Linked DNA regions of Homo sapiens: region 1 is linked to region 2. Evidence: fine-mapped expression QTL. A gene starts in region 2. The other region holds a variant in brackets. All regions are shown on one strand. Distances are from middle to middle. Region 1 overlaps PRDM2 (PR/SET domain 2). Region 2 holds the start of PRDM2 (PR/SET domain 2).

The links. PIP is the estimated chance that this variant, and not a neighbour inherited with it, causes the effect. A credible set is the group of variants that fine-mapping cannot tell apart.
Region 1: its variant is the best candidate, but not a certain one, in a credible set for the expression of PRDM2 in whole blood (TOPMed, PIP 0.78).

Annotation. Positions count from the first base shown.
Region 1 is chr1:13,785,635-13,790,027 of GRCh38, forward strand. The region is part of intron 8 of PRDM2 (PR/SET domain 2); the gene reads left to right. Among named protein-coding and RNA genes, the nearest start is that of PRDM2, 88 kb to the left of the region's middle. The variant A/G (reference allele first, on the strand shown) is at 2,199.
Region 2 is chr1:13,697,595-13,701,987 of GRCh38, forward strand. PRDM2 (PR/SET domain 2) reads left to right here and starts at 2,594. Exons shown (of 10, transcript NM_001393986.1): 1 at 2,594-2,706. RefSeq lists a silencer at 2,347-3,116.

The sequences.
Region 1 (4,393 bases), 88 kb after region 2:
GTTCTCCTGCTGCAGCTCTTACTACAGTGACCCACCCCCCACCCCTCGCCATGGCTTTCTGGAGTGCTGAGTTTAAATCTGTTGCTAAGGGTTCATTTCCATGGGCTCCAGTAAAGCAGAAAGGGAAGGAAAGAGGTGTATTCTCTACTCACCTCCTACTCATCTTTCACCTTTGTAAACCCCACGGTGTTTTTGGGTTCTTTTTTTTTTTTTTTTTTTAATGAGACAGAGTCTCGCTCCGTTGCCCAGGCTGGAGTGCAGTGGCACGATCTTGGCTCACTGCAAGCTCTGCCTCCCGGGTTCACGCCATTCTCCTGTCTCAGCCTCCCGAGTAGCTGGGACTACAGGTGCCCGCCACCATGCCCGGCTAATTTTTTGTATTTTTAGTAGAGATGGGGTTTCACCGTGTTAGCCAGGATGGTCTCGATCTCCTGACCTTATGATCCGCCCGTCTCGGCCTCCTGCAGTGCTGGGATTACAGGTGTGAGCCACCGTGCCTGGTGTTTTTGGGTTCTTTAATGCTTCTTTTAGAGCCACATTTTTCTTTTCAAACCGAGTTCCCATCGCAGTCAAGAAAAAGGTAGAGAAGCAAAATGAAATTCTAGACCAAGTTTTTCCATTTACCAGGAATTGATTTAAAAAAAAAAGTGCTAATTTCTCATGCCTCCATCTCTGCTACATCCCTTGGAAATAAATGCGTGTAGTTCCTTGCAGGGTGTGTCTTCTGGGTAGGACGCTCGTTCCTAAATGCCTTCAGTCATGTATGTGTTGTCGTCTTAATAACATTTGTCTTACGGTCTATTCACCTTTTTCTTTAACATGGTCAATCATGTAAGGTTATGTTCTGTTGTCATTTATCTTCAGTTTTCTTATTTTCTAGGAACTTCCTGTAGAAAAGCCCCCAAAACAAAACAAACCTTAATTGACTAAAAAGTATTGCATGCTCAACTTAGGATAAGCACTACGGCAAAGGATACGAAATCTACCAAGCTTGCAAGACCAGTTGAAGCTGACTCAAAAATCCTAACATTCAGCTGATTGCCGGCAGGCTTAGAGTCAGGCATCTGCTGCTTCGGTGGGGGCCCAACGCGCATGCTGGGCGCCCGGGTGATTGAGATCCAAAGAGAAGGGCACTGTAAGACAGGCCAGATGAACTGGCTCCTCGTCATGGGACTGGTACCTCAGATCTGAGCATGGCCCTTGTTTTTGGCACGTAGCAGAGAAAGGATTGATTTGAACTTAACCTTGCAAAGCAAGTTGCCTGTTTTAGCAGTAGTTTGTTGTAGGTTTCAGGGATGACAGATTTGGATGCACTCATTTAAAACGTTTTGGTCACATATCAGCTCTTGATGCCTTTCTTTTAAATTAATTATAGACAGAGAGAGGCATTTAGCTGATCTCTTACCCCTGGTATTTCTTTTTTTTGTTGTTTTCGTTTTTTTAAATCACAAGTAGATTGCCAGCGTAATGGAGAGGAAACCAGATTGGATATGGACTCTTTTTTATGCCTATTCTGGTGTTGCGTTTGTATATCCAAATGGACGTTATCCTCTCAGATTCTTATCTGGCACTAATTTATAACTATTATATTATCAGAGACTATGTAGCAATATATCAGTGCACAGGCGCATCCCAGGCCTGTACAGATGTATGTCTACACGTAAGTATAAATGAATTTGCATACCAGGTTTTACACTTGCATCTCTAATAGAGATTAAAAACAACAAATTGGCCTCTTCCTAAGTATATTAATATCATTTATCCTTACATTTTATGCCTCCCCCTAAATTAATGACTGAGTTGGTGGAAAGCGGCTAGGTTTTATTCATACTGTTTTTTGTTCTCAACTTCAAAAGTAATCTACCTCTGAAAAATTTGTAGTTTAATATTTGTTTGGTGAATTTGTGCCACTTTAATCCTTCCACTATCATTCCCATTTTGTTACATTTCTGTTATGGGGACTTTATGTTGAAATATTGTATAAAGCATTTGTAGCAATTTAAAAATAAAATATTTAAAATTATTTAAATTGTTTTGGACGCTTCAATTGTATTATATGTGATTTACATTTCACTTTTTTTGTTGGCGTTGTTAACCCGGAGAGTGCTCCTGTATTGAACTTTGCTGTTAGTTATTTTATTGCTTCTTTTTGGAGAGTGCTATAAAAGACTATTCTAATGAAAACATTAAAATTTACA[A/G]TTTGACATACAAAAAGGGGTTGTCCATTGATTTTAACCAATGTAGCACTGAGAGAGAGAGAGGTTAATTATAGATAGACAAGAGTGGTGTTTGTTGTTTTTCCCCTCCCAGCATTGAAATCATTGGGGCTTGTCAGATGTATTAAAAAAAGATTTGTTGTGCTATTGCTGCAAACACTTAATAACTAGAGGAGAATTTAAACAATGCATTTTATATTATTGTAACCAATAAAAAACTTTCTAAACATCTGTGAAAGGACTGCATTTTGTACATAATTGGGAGCAGTTAGGGGGTAAAACAAGGTGTGTGTGGAGGATTGTTCAGAGCCCGCACTCTAATTTAAAAGTGCGGCGTCTACTCAGCCCACCTGGCGTCTGTTCACTTGTTTCTATTTGACAGTAACTGAATATGTGCTCATTCCAGTTGGATTTCTATGTAGAGGGTGGACGTGTAGTCAGACAACGGTGCCGAGAAGTACCTTGTGAACTCACTCGGGTAAGAGTAAAATACAAAATAATTTCATCTGTGGGGTCTCTGTGCTTCCTAAAAGTTTACTGTAGTTTGTGGATTGATGTTTATTTCTATGGGCTTCCAAAGAATGAAACCAAAAAGTTGTGACATACTCAGTTTATGTGAAATTGCTGGGGTTTTTTAAGATTAAAAATGGCTGACTATAAGCGGTTTCCTATAGTTCATCATCATAGCACTTTGCTAACCACATCTGTCTGTCACTCCTCAGGGAAAGGTGGTGAAGGGATAGCCAGCTTCCCTTGGCCAGATGTTCTGGCATACGATATTCCTCCCTTAGAAAAACACGGAGGAGAGAGGTTGGTGGGAATCTGGAACTGGTCTTCGATATTAGTAGTTTTAAACAAATGAGGCTTCAACACACAGCAGTGCCCTGTGAGGAGTTGAGTGTTGTGAGAAAGAGCACGGTCTTGGATGAGAACTGGATTTCCATCCTAACCCATCTGCTGGCCGTTCATCCCTTCCCTGTGCCTTCAGTAAACGGGCCTCCAACAAGCGCCCTCCATGGCTGCGTCTTCTGTGTTTTAGCCTTGGGCAAGTTCCTTTACATTCTGGATCATAGTTCCCAGTCTGCAAAAAGTGGGGAGTAGACTGGCTGGTTTCTGAGTGCGCCCTCTAGGAGGAGATCTTTTCTCCTGGATCAAGATGCTGTCAGACACAAGCACTGGACTGAAAGAGTGGGATGATGGCTCGGTCTCCACAGTGTCCCTGGCTCTGCCTGGAACATGACAGGGACTCAGATGTTTACTGGAGGAGTCACCAAGGAACCACATCACATCCATCTCACCAAGGGAGAAGCTGCCCTGTTTGGGTTGCTTTGGCTCTTCTTTGATAGAGTTAAACGTTTTTAAAAAATCAAAAGCTAATTAGAGCCTTCCATCCCTGTTACCATTGAAACATTTCACAGTGTTTCTGGTAAATGCCTTGCTAGGCTGGCTGTCTTGTCCTCGTTGTTACAAGTACTTTCTAGCAAGATAATTTTACAAAACCAGCTTAATGTATTGAGTACTTAATGTATGCCTGGCTGTGTTGTAGGTGCTTAGGATACATCTCTGAACAAAATGGACAAAAATCCTGACTTCCGTGGGGCTTGTATTTTCATAGTGGCTTTTTTCCCCACTTTATACTTCATATTCCAAACCTCCTCGCTGTCACAGTTCCCCAGAGGCTAGGTGGACAAGGAGATGCTTCTAGCTTAATATCTGAATGCCAGTAATCTAGATGACTGCCGGCTTTTAATACTTAGCTTAAAATGACTCTACTAAAATTATAGCTCACTTAATGCATTTGATATTTTATTCATGTGGGTTTTGATTTGATATTGAACCTCGCTTTGAATATATTGACTTGAATCCATAAAAAAAATCATAAAGGGCAATTTACCTTGAAAGTGGATTAGAGCACAGGCGGATGAGAAAAGGGTTGACTAGGATATAAAGGCCACATTTAAAGTGTTTCAAAGACCAGGCTGATAGTTACAGAAAATGGTTTATCGTTCCCCGTCAGCCTTTACAGGCCCAGCTCTCATGGCCTCTTTCCTGCCTGATGGCACCACTCCTGCAGCTGCCGCTTCAGGCAGCCTCAGTGAAGGTTCTGGTGAAGCACTGCTGTTGAGCGTATGTTCGAGGGCCTTGCAGGTGTGGATGGGCCATTCTGCTAGACTTAA
Region 2 (4,393 bases):
AACCTCAGAAACGCTGAGGAGACACCCAGTGTGGTAGGCTAAATAATGGCCCCATACCTAAATCCACATCCCTAACGTCCAGAATCTGCAAATGCTACTTCATATGTAGTCTTGCAGACGTGATTAAGTGAAGGATCTTGAGATGGCCAGATTATCTGGGTGGGTCCTAAATCACATGTATCATTATGAGAGGGAGGCAGAGGGAATTTGACCACATACACAGGAGAAGATGACATGAAGATGGAGATAGAGATTTGAAGATACTGGCCTTGAAGATAGAGTGATGCAGTCACAAGCCAAGGCATGCTGGCAGCCACCAGAAGCTGGAAAAGGGAAGGAGCAATTCTCTGCTAGAGACTCCAGAGGGAGCCCGGCCCTGCTGCCACCTTAATTTTGGCCTAGTGATACTGATTTTGGACTTCTAGCCTCTAGAGTTGTGACAGAATAAACTTCTGTTGTCAGGGTTGGGATAATTTGTTACAGCAGCCACAGGAAACTAATATAGCCAGTCACTTTGGATTAATGAATTAATAACCGGAAAGACAACTACTGGCTACTCTGTTAACCAACCATCTAGTATCCATTCTGGTTCACCGTGCCACTTCTGATTTAACATCCTTTATTTTCCTTTTGCATTCTATTGAATGCCAGGTGGCCCATAGCTTTTCTCTTAAAATGGTGATTTCTATGTCAGTGTTTTGATGGTGGATGGAACAGTGGGGTCTCCCTATTTTCTTCATAGATACCCCAGATAATTTCGATGCATGGATCCAGTTGGAAGGTATTAATCTAGGTAAGGGGTGCAGAAGTCTGATGACTTTGCTCCACAACAGAGAATACTACTTTGATGACAGGCACGTGGTATCTCCCAGATCTAGGGTCTCTTTTCCTTGAATAGCGGAAGAAATAAGCAAACCCTTGAGGTTTGATTTATTTCCTTATTTTCTTAAGCCCTGTCACTTCTCAAGGCCTTAATAAAATTTACTCTAATGAGGTGATCTTCATTTGTTTACTATAACCGACTCGATCATCAGCTATAGCCTCATTCTTTTTTTTTTTTTTTTTTTTGATACTGAGTCTCGCTCTGTCACCCAGGCTGGAGAGCAGTGGGGCATCTTGGCTCACTGCCAGCTCCGCCTCCCGGGTTCACGCCATTCTCCTGCCTCAGCCTCCGGAGTAGCTGGGACTACAGGCGCCCGCCACCACGCCTGGCTAATTTTTTGTATTTTTAGTAGAGACGGGGTTTCACTGTGTTAGCCAGGATGGTCTCGATCTCCTGACCTCGTGATCCACCCGCCTCGGCCTCCCAATGTGCTGGGATTACAGGCTGAGCCACCGCGCCCGGCCTAGCCTCATTCTTTTACAATAAGATAACATGATATATGTTGATACAACACGTTTTCTTTCTTTTTTGAGATGGAGTCTGTCTCTGTCGCCCAGGCTGGCGAGCAGTGGGGCGATCTTGGCTCACTGCAAGCTCCGTCTCCTGGGTTCACGCCATTCTCCTGCCTCAGCCTCCGGAGTAGCTGGGACTACAGGCACCCGCCACGTCGGCCGGCTAAATTTTTGTAGTTTTAGTAGAGACGGGGTTTCACCGTGTTAGCCAGGATGGTCTCGATCTCCTGACCTCGTGATCCACCTGCCTTGGCCTCCCAAAGTGCTGGGATTACAGGCGTGAGCCACTGCGCCCGGCCAACACGTTTTCTTAAGATTAAACCTGTTACATAAATGATCGTTCATAATTTTTGGAAGCACACCTGCCCTTAGTATCCTGTTTTTCCACTGGGTGCTTTCTGCAGATGGCCAACGTAGCCATCACATTCGGATTCTTCCTGACTTCATTCTCAGAGGATTACTTTATCTTGAAGTGCTGAAGGCTCCAGGCACCATCTATAACGACAACTCCCAACTTTCCAGCTCATCTCCAGCCTGTGCTTCTCCCCGACTCAACTCATTTTCAACCACGTGCTAGGCCTCCACCCTTGGATGTCGAAGAGCCATCTCCAGTTCCACCCAGTTCATCTTCATCAGAACATCTATGAGTCGTCGTCTCTGCAGTCCATTTGTTTGCCCGCTTGGGAACAGCAAGCTCCTTAAGGGCAGGACTACTACCGCGCTCTCAGAGGCGCTGCACTGGAACATCGCGGGCACAGGGCAGCGTTGGTCACTGCTCCTGGGTACTAGGGCAGCAAATAAACCCAGCAGCTGCGTCTGTCTGCCTGGAGTTGGATCTTTTTGGTATAGATCCAAACGTAGAAGTATAAGGTCTACGTTTATGTACTTGTCAGATATTTAATGACCTCCAACGATAGACATGCCCCCCCAACACCTCCTTCAGTCTTTTTGATTCTTTGAGAATCTTTGAACCACGCAGGATCCTAGCCCTAGGGTGCGGTCGGACTTGCCGCGACGCCAGCCGCCGGGGTTCCTTCCCGAGGCGCCGCCATGGGATCCGCGGTGACCTACGAGGGGCGGCTGGGTGGTGGCCATTGGGCGACGGCGCAGGGTCAAGGGCCGGGCTCTGGGATCGTGGGGAGACCGGGGGTCCCGGAGCCCCCCAGCCCCGCAGGCCACTGCCTCGCCGCCCGACGTCACTTCCGACTGGAGTCAAGATGGCGGCGGCGCGGCCGCGGGCGCCGGGGCCGGCGAAACAGCGGCGGCGGCGGCGGCCCTCGGTGCTCTGAGGCGCTGGCGCGGCGGGCGCGGGTAAGGAGTGGCGCGGGTGGGCGGCCTCTGGGCTCGCGCCGGGACGCTGGTCCCTCCCCCCGAGGAGCGCGGCGGCGACGGCGGCGGCGACACGCTGGGGACCCGGCGCCGCAGGGATGGCCGGGTCGGCGGACGCGCCCCCTCAGAGGTCCCGGGCGTGCCGGGGGCCCCGGGACGAGGCGCGGGCCTCCGGGTCGGTGGCCCCGCGGGTGGGTGGCGGCGCCGGGCTCCTCCTTGTCGGCCGTGGGGTCCCTGCGGCGAAGTTCGGGATTCGGTTTGTCGCCGTGAAGAGCCGCGCGCCCCGCGGGGGACGCGTGCGGGCTGCAGAGACTGGCCGGGTGCGGGCGGCGGTGGGGCCACCTGGGGCCCCACGTGGGGCCGGGCGCCGTCCCAATTGTCAAGCCGCTGTGCTTTTCTCTTTTGTGTTCCCACTGAGTGTGTCTTGCACATTTGCACTCCAAATTTGTTTTGTGTCTTGCGTCTTTGTGTTTCCCAAATAGTTTTTGTGTGGTTTTAACCTGGAGATTGTCTCCCTCAATGTTCCCATAGACCCACGGGTGTATGTGTGTGTGTGCGCACGCGCGCGTGTGTGTGTGTTACAGACGTGCAACTCTGTTACTAATTTTGCTAATAAAGCTATCAATGAACCTCTTTTGATGGTGGTAAGTGAGACATGAAGTAAACCTAACAGGTCAGTGTCATTCCCCAAACCTTCGTGGTTCTTTCGATCCACGCGTGAGCCACCGACCCTCCGGGCTTGTAGCTTTGTGTCGGGCTGTGAGCTGCGGCAAAGACCCCATAGTTAACCGGGAAGTCCTGATTTCCTTAACTACGCAGCTGAAATTTCCCCTAACAGAAATTTCGTGCTGGCCCCTCACTTTTCTTTTAGTGTTGTATTGAGATTTTGGGTGTATTTGAGACGTGGAACGTCTTTTGCTGAATCCCAGTAGGTCCTTAGATCCCTTTAACCAGACACTAGAAGAATCATTTTTACCCCAGAACTCGACTAAAATGTTTAAGTTTTTGTTTACTCCAGGTTTATTAAAAGTGACCGAAACTTTTAACAACAAATGGAACTCTTCAATGATTTCTTTTACAATGGTACACACTTCGCCTCGGTTTGATCAGTTGTGTCCAAGTATTAGAAAAATGTAGGCCTTTTAAAAAAAAACATGATAGGAAATTTACATATATTAAGGAGGAGGAACTGAGACACACTGTCATACGTTCTTTTTTAGTAGGGTTCTGTGTTTTTGAGATGGTCCAAACTGCCCCATCACTCTTGAGGCTTCCGGACTAACACTTATTGGCCAAATTTTTACATGTAGAATCTTAGTTTAGCCTTGAGATGACCTTTAAAGATCATTTTTATTAAACCCCCTCATTTCGAGCTATGGAAACAAATCAAAATTCACAGTGGAACTAAAACTCATTTACATTTTCTGTGATTCCAGGGCTCTTTTTACTCAACACATCTGTTTTGGTTTGATTGAAATAAGTTAATACATTTTAAGTGCTTAGAAAAGTGCCAGAACATGATAATACTGCTCAGTAAATGTTTGCTTTTGTTGATTCTGAAGGTGGTTTCTTTAATTGAAAGGTTGGTATGTTCAGGTTTGTTTTTTCCTTATTTTGTGGACAGGGCCTGAAACAGTACAGTTTAAATCTGTAAGAATGTATTAATTTT